Regions from separate parts of the Homo sapiens genome. Here region 1 is linked to region 2. Evidence: fine-mapped QTL for protein levels in blood plasma. Region 2 holds a variant in brackets. A gene starts in the other region. All regions are shown on their forward strands. Region 1 holds the start of PLA2G7 (phospholipase A2 group VII). Region 2 has its middle 7.3 kb from the start of CEACAM16-AS1.

What was found. PIP is the chance, under the fine-mapping model, that this variant and not a neighbour inherited with it causes the effect. The UK Biobank Pharma Proteomics Project read protein levels with antibody pairs (Olink). The fine-mapping took linkage between variants from a reference panel, not from the people measured, so its PIPs are less certain.
Region 1: it holds the start of PLA2G7, and the variant in region 2 is fine-mapped to the plasma level of the PLA2G7 protein (UK Biobank, PIP above 0.99).

What each region holds. Positions count from the first base shown.
Region 1 is chr6:46,732,347-46,737,720 of GRCh38, forward strand. PLA2G7 (phospholipase A2 group VII) reads right to left here and starts at 3,029. Exons shown (of 12, transcript NM_005084.4): 1 at 2,834-3,029.
Region 2 is chr19:44,729,794-44,735,167 of GRCh38, forward strand. No RefSeq gene overlaps it. Among named protein-coding and RNA genes, the nearest start is that of CEACAM16-AS1, 7.3 kb to the left of the region's middle. The variant AAG/A (reference allele first, on the strand shown) is at 2,800.

The DNA of each region.
Region 1 (5,374 bases), not on the chromosome of region 2:
CCCATATATCCAACACACACATACACACACACACACACACACACACACACACACACCACTATACTGCAGCAATCTGCTTGCTTTTCTTCTCATTATATGAATTCACCCTGTTCATCCCTCAATTCTAGAATGTGAGCACTGTGAGAGCAGAGAGCATATCTATCTTACTAACTGTGCTGTACTCAGTACCTGGCACTTAGGATCTGATCAATAAATATTTTTTGAAGTGAATGAATGAATGAATACAAGTTCTACTAGGAATCAACTAGCCCACTTAATTCAATGAGCATCTACTCTTACAATAGACTTTTTATTTCTCCTCAACTGCTAAGTTTCTTTAAAAACCAAAAACCTACATGTTTGTATGTATTAGCCTGTTTCTGTTAGTGTTGAGTCACGCCCATAAAATTGAGCAAAATGACAGTGAGGGCACATAATGTGTCTAACAGGTGGCTGGCGTCATGAAGAAAGTCAGTAAGAACCCAGAATCATATTCTGAAACAATACAATTTTAGAACTGAATGTTTCTCTTCAATTTCCCTTCACTCAGTACTTTCTCTTCAATGCTTTTATTTTATGGAAATTTCTCAACATCTTGAGACGTCAGTCAGGCTTATTATCACGAATCTTGAAAAAAAATTAGGCTTAAGAGGAATCAGAGTGTAAATAATCCAATATCCACCTTCCTTTCCAGGAAATAGCCATCTTCTTGGGTATCAGGAAAAGGAAGATAAAGGGGACTCCTAAACTGACTTTCCCAGGGGCTCCCACTCCAGCTGCTCAGGTACCCAGTTAGCACTTTTCTTAATGTTCTGTGCTGACAGAGCTTCAAAGAGTGTGGTAAGTCATATTCATGTGCAAAGGTGAGAGTGAGGGAATGTGTTTAGGCCCATGTATGTTCCTCACAACAAAAGTGCAAAGGGGACAGAGACACAATGGAGAGGAAATGAGGACCCAGCTGTCCCAGGTTCTGTCTGAGGGAAAAGTCCTGCGGTGCTAAGCAAGCCCTTCCACACCTCAGAAGGGATTTCTCAACTGTAAAATGAGTGGCTGAACCAGATTCACAACACTCCTAATGCTGCAACTCCTTCAGTCTTGCTGGCTGTACAGTAGGCAGTCACAGACTATGGTGCCAGCCTTGGGTATGAAGGGCCCAGTTCAATGAAGAAAGACATTGAGACATCACCACATGGCCAGCAGCAGCTTCTGGTGCACAAATATCTGGGGAGGGGAAAGCACTTTCAGTGCCCAAGTGCAAGGAGCTGAAGTAGGCCTGCTGGAAAATGCCAAGGTGGTGCGCTGTCTCACCACTTTCTGCAGGGCCAGCAGAATTCCTCTGTGAGGGAATCTGCCTGGGTGATGGAGGCTCACCAGTGCCTCGTGACCAGAAGGCCATCTGCTTCTTCTTGATCAGGCCAGTGCTTAATGCTCAGATCTCTGAATTCAATGTAAGCTCAAGGTTTCGTGCTGAGCCTCTTGGGATTGCCAACACCTCAGGGGATACATTTTCCAGCTCCTACCCATATACCAGTCTCCCAGCTCAGCATTCTCATTTGGATCAAAAGTAATTTGTGCAAGCCTGATTTGTTAACACATCCCAAATCTGAATCCGTGTGCCTTTTAAAGGTGGCAAGCTGCCATTTATGAGCCATACGCACCTCTCCTTCCTCATCACCACTGCAGTAATCCCAAGAACCACAGGCATGAATAAAAGCCCGAACTTTTCGTTTTTGGTGACAGAAATTTCTCTTACAAGCTCCAGGAGATGATGAGGAAGACAGTGTTCTCTGTTTTCTGATTTTGCTTAATTTTTTAAAAATGAGCCTCTCCCTTGACTTGGTGACACAGCTGTGATCTTATCTGGCCGGCAGGGGGATGCTCCAGGTAGGACAAAGAGTGCTTTGTTTTGTTCTTACAGCAGCCACGCATAACTGGGCTCCAAAAACGCAATACTCCTCAAAGGGAGAGTGAGAGAGAGGGAGAGAGGGAGAAGGGTGTGTGAGAGAGAGAGCGGAGGGAGAGAGAGAGAGGAGGCAGAGTGAGAGGTGTGTAGTGGTGTGTGTGTGTGTGAGAGAGAGAGAGAGAGAGAGAGAGAGAGAGAGAGAGAGAGAGAGAGAGAGAGAGAGAGAGAGAGAGAGAGAGAGACGGAGAGAGAGATTGTCCCTGTAGGAGATCTACAGATAAGAAAACTCCGGGGCGGGCGCGGTGGCTCATGCCTGTAATCCCAGCATTTTGGGAGGCGGAGGCGGGCGAATCACGAGGTCAGGAGATCGAGACCATTGTGGCGAACACAGCGAAACCCCGTCTCTACTAAAAATTCAAAAAAATTAGCCGAGCGTGATACGGCACGCCAGCAGTCCCAGCTACTCGGGAAGTTGAGGCAGGAGAATTGCTTGAACCCGGGAGACAGAGGTTGCAGTGAGTCGAGATCGCGCCTCTGCACTCCAGCCTGGCGACAAAATGAGACTCCGCCTCAAAAGAAAGAAAGAAGGAACGAAAGAAAGAGAGAGAGAGAGAAAAAAAAGAAAAGAAAACTCCATGTGTTCCCTGCCTGTCCTGATTCTCCCCCCAGCTCTGAGCTCTTAGGGTTGCTTCCTTTCGGGAAAAGGTTTGGAAGAACTGGTGTCTAATACCGTCATCCTCTCCCTCTCCCCGCAAGGATCCTAGCGCTGTTTCCGAGGGCTGCAGGGACTGTGAGCCCAGGACCGGCCAGCAGAGCGGGTGCGACTCAGCGAGCCCACCCCGGCCGGTCGCCGCTCCGGGGTCCCGACCTCCAGCGCGGCGACCGTGCCCTTCCTCCCACTCCCGCCTCGCCCCCGGGGCCCCTCCTCACTCAGGCGCGGCGCGGAGCTGCTCGCGGGAACTGGGGTCCCTGGGCGCGTTCCACCGCGCACCAACGCGACCCAAGCGCTCCAAACCCGACTGCTTCTCGCCGACAGCACTGCGAGCCTCCGACCAGCCGCTGTCCCCCTGGCTGCGGGCCGAGCAGCTCTGGCAGGCGGCGGGCGGGTGGGCTGCGCGCGGGCTGTGTCCTGGGTCCGCCTAGCGCGGCCTTGTGGCCCCGACCCTCTCCTCCCCTGGTGATGCTGGAGGAGGTACCGGGGAGGAGCGTGTGTGGCCCCGGCCTCTCACTAGCAGCGGCGGCTCCCGACGCTAGCCTGCTCGAGCGCACCCAGCACCCTCCCCAAGACCATGGCCCGCACCTGGACCCGCGGTTAACTTAGCCCGCCGCGGAGAGAGCCAGGCAATGCCTGGGTGGTGTCGTGCTCACCAGCTCCTTTCCGCAGACCTGATGCCGATCAGATTTACTCCCTGCTGAATTCACCCCCCAGTCAGGCCGGTTTTCCTTGTTTCACCGTGTTCTCTGAATACACTGAATTACTCCGAGCATCTATAGTTGGCAATGCCCTGCGCATTTTCCGCACTCCGATACACTTTACACTGAACACCAATTCGGAAGTTGTGTGGACCGTGCTCCAGATTGGAAGGCCTGCCACTGTGCTGGTGTCATTTCTCCCTGGAAATGACAATGAAGGACAATCAGGAATAGCACTTAGGTCTGAGGAGAAATGGAGCTAGAAGGAGCCGTTTCATAGCTCAGTGTAACACAGAGTTATTTGGGGTTTAACTGAAACGCCTTCCTTCATCTTCCAATGTTTTCTCTTCAATCCACTTTCTAATAAATTAAAAACACACTCATTTAAAACTTCAGCTAGAAACTTAGGGAAAGTAGTTTGAAATTTATGTGTGGTGTTATTAAAATTTTATATTTTTAAATCGTGTTTTGGTTTTTGGTGAGGTGCCAGAACTGGAGATGAAATTTTGCTTATTTTGATTTTGAGTATTCTGCAGTAAGATGGCCTGAATTTTAGCTTGTTTCTCCCACTTATGAGTGGTGTGACCTTGGGGAAGTTCATCATCTCTGCTTCTCGGTCTCCTCATCCATAAAATCAAGAAAATCAAAATCAGTCAGTCAGAGGCAGTTTGTGAGCACGAAATGCAAATACATGTGAAATGCTTGGGACAGAGCTTGGCCTATGGGAAACATTCATTCAATATGTGTTATCTAATATTGATAGCTTAATGAAGCAGTGACTCATTTAAACCTAACAATAGATTTTATTTTTAATTTAAATGGAACTCTATCCGCCTAATGACATTGTCTTGTACTTCCTGGACTAACCCCCTGTAAAACAAATGGCCCACAAATATCAATCTAAAAGGATACATTATGCCCTACCAAAGACATCTCTAACGTCTTCTTTTGACCTTAAGACAAAGGTGAAGACAAAGTTGAAGTTGAAGACCTAATCCCACACTAAAAAGGTGGTAAGCTTTGAGAACAGCTCCTGAAAACAAGTATGCAACATTTTATTCACTTCTCTCATTGCCAGCAACATGTCATCTCCCATTGTCATTAGGTCATATTCTCTGAGCAGCCCCACAGCAGTTGGCATTTGGCAGGTTAGTGCCCTGAGAAGATGCCCAGTGAAGAGTGCCCAGATTTAGCAAATAAAAATGCAGAACATCTGGTGAAATTTGAATGTCAGATAAACAATAAATAGTTTTTTAGTATAAATATGCCCCATGCAATATTTGGGACATATACTAAAAAGTTATTTGTTGTTTATCTGAAATTCAGATTTAACTGGGCTTCCTGTATTATATCTGGCAACCCAGTAAGTAAAATTAATAAAGAATATTCCTCACATTCCAAGAGGATAAGTCAACACAGACATACAGATTATAAGGTGTGTCTGATATGGGTTGTTTTAGTTTTTTATGAGTTGGTTCTTTGTTATTCTGTTTCCTACATTTAATTCCTCCTCTCATTTCCCATTGACATAACAGTACCTATTTCCTCTTTAATATGAATGAAACTGATGTCTCACCTCTTCCCTTCAATCAAGATATTAAATTGTAATAATGTGCTCAATTTCTTTTTCTTTTCTTTTCTTTCTTTCTTTTTTTTTTCTTTTCTGGAGATATGGTCTCACTCTGTCACTCAGGCTGAAGTGCAGTGGCATGATCACAGCTCACTGCCGCCTTTACCTCCCAGGCTCAAGCAATCCTCCTACCTCAGCTTCCCAAGTAGCTAGGATCACAGACACATATCACCACACCTGGCTAAATTTTTTATTTTTATTTTTTGTAGAGACAGTGTCTCACTATGTTGCCCAGGTTGGTCTTGAACTCCTAGGCTCAAGCGATCTTCCTGCCTCAGCCTCTCAAAGTGCCAGGGTTACAGGTGTGAGCCACTGTGCCTTGCCATGCGCTCAACGTTTTTTTTTAAATTTGAATAGTGTTTACTGAGGTGAGGGCCAGCTGTATGTCAGGTACCATTTCAAGGATGAATAAGACACAGTCCTTCCCT
Region 2 (5,374 bases):
CACTTGTAGTTCCAGCTAATGAGGAAGCTGAGGCGGGACGATCGCTAGAGCCTGAAAGGTTGAGGCTGCAGTGAGTGGTGATCGCACCGCTGCACTCCAGCCTGGGTGACAGAGTGAGAACATTCCTCAAAAAAAAAAAGAAAGAAAGAAAGAAAGAAAAGAAATGTATGATGAAAAGAGTGAATTTTACTGTAGGTAAATTTGTCAATGATTTTTTTTTAAGGACTACATACTCTGTAATCCCATTTACATGTCATCCTGGAAAAGCAAATTTATAGGGATAAAAAGCAGCTGGGTGTGGCGGCTCACACCTGTAATCCCAGTACTTTGGGAGGCTGAGGCAGGTGGATCACTTGAGGTCAGGAGTTTGAGACCAGCCTGGGCAACATGGTGAAACCCCACCTCTACTAAAAATACAAAAATTAGCCGGGCGTGGTGGCAGGCACCTGTAATACCAGCTACTCAGGAGGCCAAGGCAGGAGAATCGCTGGAACCCGGGAGGTGGAGGTTGCAGTAAGCCGAGATCGTGCCACTGCACTCCAGCCTGGGTGACAGAGCAAGACCCCATCTCAAAAAAAAAAAAAAAAGGCAGATATAGCTGAGTGTGGTGGCTCATGCCTGTAATCCCAGAACTTTGGGAGGCTGAGGTGGGTGGATCACTTGAGGTCAGGAATTCAAGACCAGCCTGGCCAACATGGTGAAACCTCGTCTCTACTAAAAATACAAAAATTAGCCGGACATGGTGGTGCCTGCCTGTAATCCCAGCTACTGGGGAGGCTGAGGCAGAAGAATCACTTGAACCCGGGAGGCAGAGGCTGCAGCAAGCAGAGATCGCGCCCCTGCACTCCAGCCTGGGTGACAGAGCAAAATGTCTCAAAAAAAAAAAAAAGAAAAAAGAAAAAGAAAAAGAAAAGAAAAGAGGCCGGGCGCGGTGGCTCACGCCTGTAATCCCAGCACTTTGGGAGGCCGAGGCGGGCAGATCACAAGGTCAATAGATCGAGACCATCCTGGCCAACATGGTGAAACCCCGTCTCTACTAAAAATTCAAAAATTAGCCAGGCATGGTGGCGGGCGCCTGTAGTCCCAGCTACTAGGGAGGCTGAGGCAGGAGAATCACTTGAACCAGGGAGGCAGAGGTTGCAGTGAGCCGAGACCGTGCCACTGCACTCCAGCCTGGCAATAGAGTGAGACTCCATCTCAAAAAAAAAAAAAGAAAAGAAAAAGCAGATTAGTGGCTGCCAGTGTCTGGGGACAAGGGGAGGAGATGACTGCAAGGAGGGCACAGTGGACCTTTTCCGGGCACTAGAAATGTTCTATATCTTGATCAGGATATGATTAAATGATTGTACATGTTTATCAGAACTCATCTAGCATACTCCTTCTTTAATTTAATTTTAATTAATTTAATTGATTTATTTTTGAGAGAGTCTCGCTCTGTCACCCAGGCAGGAGTTCGGTGGCAAGATCACAGCTCACTGCAATCTCCACCTCCTGGATTCAAGTGCCTCAGCCTCCCAAGTAGCTGGGATTATAGGCATGCGCCACCATGCCCCGCCAAACACACACATTTGAAACAGGTGTATTTTATTGCATGTAAATTATACCTCAGTACAGTTGATTTTTAAAATCTAAACTCCTGGCCAGGTGCAGTGGTTCAGGACTGTAATCCCAGCACTTTGGGAGGCTGAGGCAGGAGGATCACTGGAGCCCGGGAGTTCAAGACCAGTCTGGGCTTCCTGGCAAGACCCTGTCTCTACAAAAAAAAAAAAAAAAAAATGCAAAAACTAGCAGGGCATGGTGGCACATGCTTGTAGTCCCAGCTACTCAGGAGGCTGAGGGGGAAGGATCACCTGAGCCCCGGGAGGTGGAGGCTGCAGTGAGTCGTGAATGCACCACTGCACTCCAGCCTGGGTGACAGAGTGAGACCCCGTCTCAAAACACACACACACACACACACACACACACACATTTAGCTCCTCTTCCCCCTTATTGGCTGTGTGACCTTAGACAAAGCTCCTAACTTCTCTGTGCCTGGGTAAATGATGAGGGAGTTGGGAAGGAGGGAATGATCACTGAGGGCAGGTGCTGAGGTCTCAGGTCTCACTGTGGATTCATGCAAGAAACGTTTACAAGTGAAACAGAGGGGCTTTATGAGCTTTTAGAGGGGAACTGGAGACAGAGACCTGAGCAGCTGACAATGGCTCCTATGTCTCCGGAGGGCAGGTGGTGGGCTGAGCACTGTCAGGGCCTCACCTGCATCCCTTTGAACCATCGGGCACTCCTTTGCTGACCTGGAAAAGTGAGTGGAGCCATCCCTGGGATCCCAGAGAAATGGCATCGAGGGCACACAATTAAGAGCATTGTAAGCAAGCCTTGTGAACAGTCAGATGGGCTTGACAGCCCCGTGCCCAGAGGTCTCTGCTGTTTGGGGCAGTGCTGGATACACACAGCAGTGACAGCCCCAGGCCTGCCCTCACAGGCTCACACATGGGGAAGACTAGCCTGTCCCCAGACAGTCGCATCCCAGAATGTTGGGGCTGGCATGGTCAGGGGGGCCCAGAGGGGGCTCCTGACTCAGACTAGAAAGAGAAATCAGGGAGGGCTTCCTGGAGGAAAGGCTGTCAGAGCTGGGGCCTGATGTGTTTATTGAGCACTTACTGTGTGACCTGGTTTGGATCTCCAAGAAAGAGGTATAGTTTTGACGTTGAAGTGAAAGGGGTATGTATGGAAGGAGGATGGTGCGAGAGAGGCCTTGGCTAAGAGGCAGAAAGGGGTGTGGGTGGGACAGAGCCGGGGGAT[AAG/A]GCTGAAGGAAGACGGTAGCTGGTGTGGGTCCTCTGCGGCAGGATCCTGGACTTTCTCCCGATGATGGGGCTCAGGAAGGAGCAGCTTCCTCAGGTTCCATCCTGTGCAAAGGGAGGACCAGGCAGGAGGAGGTGGGGAGGCTGAGGAAAGGCCATGGAAATGAGAAGTGGCTATAAGAGCCACCCAGGGGAGGGGACACAGGGAGGGTGAGAAGACCTGGGCGCCCGCTCCTTTCTCTTCTCTGTTCTCACTCTGAGCTAGACGGCATTGGCCGGGCAGCTTCCTTGTTTCTAAAAGTTTAAGATAAAGGGCAGGCAAGGTGGTGCCTGCCTGTAGTCCCAGTGCTTTGGGAGGCCCAGGCAGGTGGATCACTTGAGCCTCCTGTTTGGAGCTGTAGTGAGCTATGATCACATCACTGCACTCCAGCCTGGGTGACAGAGCAAGACCCCATATCTAAAAATAATAATAATAATTAATAATAAATATAAATTTAAGATAGTGAATCTGGCCGTGCGTAGTGACTCATGCCTGTAATCCCAGCACTTTGGGAGGCTAAGGTGGACGGATCACCTGAGGTCAGGAGTTCAAGAACAGCCTGGCCAACAGGACGAAACCCTGTCTCTATTAAAAAACACAAAAAAATTAGCTAGCGTGCACCTGTAGTCCCAGCTACTCGGGAGGCTGAGGCATGAGAATCGCTTGCACCTGGGGGACAGAGGTTGGCATAAGCCAAGACCGCACCACTACACTCCAGCCTGGGTGACAGAGTGAGACTCCATCTCAATAAAAATAAATAAATAAATAAATAAATAAATAAATAAATAGTGAATCTTAAGTTTGCCAAGGATGCATTTTTATCTCTCTTTAGTTCTTAAGACTCTGATCATTCTTCTTTTTTTTTCAAGTTCCAGGGTATATGTGCAGGATGTGCAGGTTTGTTACATAGTAAAAATGTGCCACGGTGGTTTGCTGCACCCATCAACCCATCGCCTAGGTATGAAGCCCGTCATGCATTAGCTATTCTTCCTAATGCTCTCCCTCCCTCTGCACCCCTCCCCATCCCAACAGGCCTCAGTTTGTGTTGTTCCCCTTCCTGTGTCCATGTGTTCTCATCATTCAGCTCCCACTTATAAGTGAGAACACGTGGTGTTTGGTTTTCTGTTCCTGCGTTAGTTTGCTGAGGATAAATGGCTTCCAGCTCCATCTGTATCCCTGCAAAGCACATGATCTTATTCCTTTTCATGGCTGCATAGTATTCCACGGTGTATACATACCACATTTTTCTTTATCCAAGACTTCGATCATTCTTAATTTTTATTTTTATTTTATTTATTTATTTATTTATTTTTGAGACAGAGTTTTGCTCTTGTTGCCAAGGCTGGAGTGCAATGGTGCAATCTCAGCCCAATGCAACTTCCTCCTCCTGGGTTCAAGTGATTCTCCTGCCTCAGCCTCCCGAGTAGCTGGGATGACAGCCATGCACCACCATGCCGAGCTAATTTTGTATTTTTAGTAGAGATGGAATTTCTCCATGTTGGTCAGGCTGGTCTTGAACTCCTGACCTCAGGTGATCCGCCCACCTTGGCCTCCCAAAGTGCTGGGATTATAGGTGTGAGCCACCGTGCCTGGCCTAATTTCTTAAATTCTACCCATTTTTGCTCCTAAAGTTCTGTAACTGCAGGTTTACTTGATCCTTTGATACTAAGATTCATTCATTCAGTAAATACTTACTGGGCCTCTATTCTGCCCTAGGTCCTAATGATACAAGGGAGAACAAAATGTATAAAATTTTTGCCATGACAGAAATCACATTTACTGAGCACTCACTGTGTGCCAAGTTTCATGCCAGGTGTACACATATAACATTACCTACATGATGAGTTACAGACTTCTATTATCCCCATTATCCAAATGGGGAAACTGAGGCATAGGGTTCTGGAATCCCTTGTTCCTAAAAATCTAGGATTCTAGAATTCCTCTCCTTCTCCTTCCTCTTCCTCTTCCTCCCTCCTCCTCCTCCTCTTCTCCTTCTCCTTCCCCTTCCCCTTCCCCTTCCCCTTCCCCTTCCCCTTCTCCTTCTCCTTCTTCTTTTTGAGACAGGGTCTCACTGTGTTGCCCAGGCTGGAGTGCAGCGGCATGATCATAGCTCACTACAGCCTCAATCTCCCAAGCTCAAGAAATTCTCCCACCTCGGTCTCTTAAGTAGCTGGGACCACAGGCAGGGTCTCACTTTGTTGTCCAGGCTGGTCCCAAATTCCTGGGCTCAAGTGATCCTCCTGTTTCAGCCTCCCAAAGTGCTAGGATTACAGGCATGAGCCACCGTGCCCAGCCTAGAATTCTTTGCACCTAAGATTGTAAGGGTCTATAATTCTTTGTCCTTAAGATTCTCTTATGCTTGGATTCAAGTGAACAATGTATATAGGAAAAGGTGCTGAATCTCATTATTGATCCAGGAAATGCAAATTAGAACCACCCTGAGATTCCAATCCACACATACACACAGCAGGATGACTCATATTTTTAAATCTGGTAGATCCAGTACTGATAAAGATGTGGGGCAAGGAGAACTCAC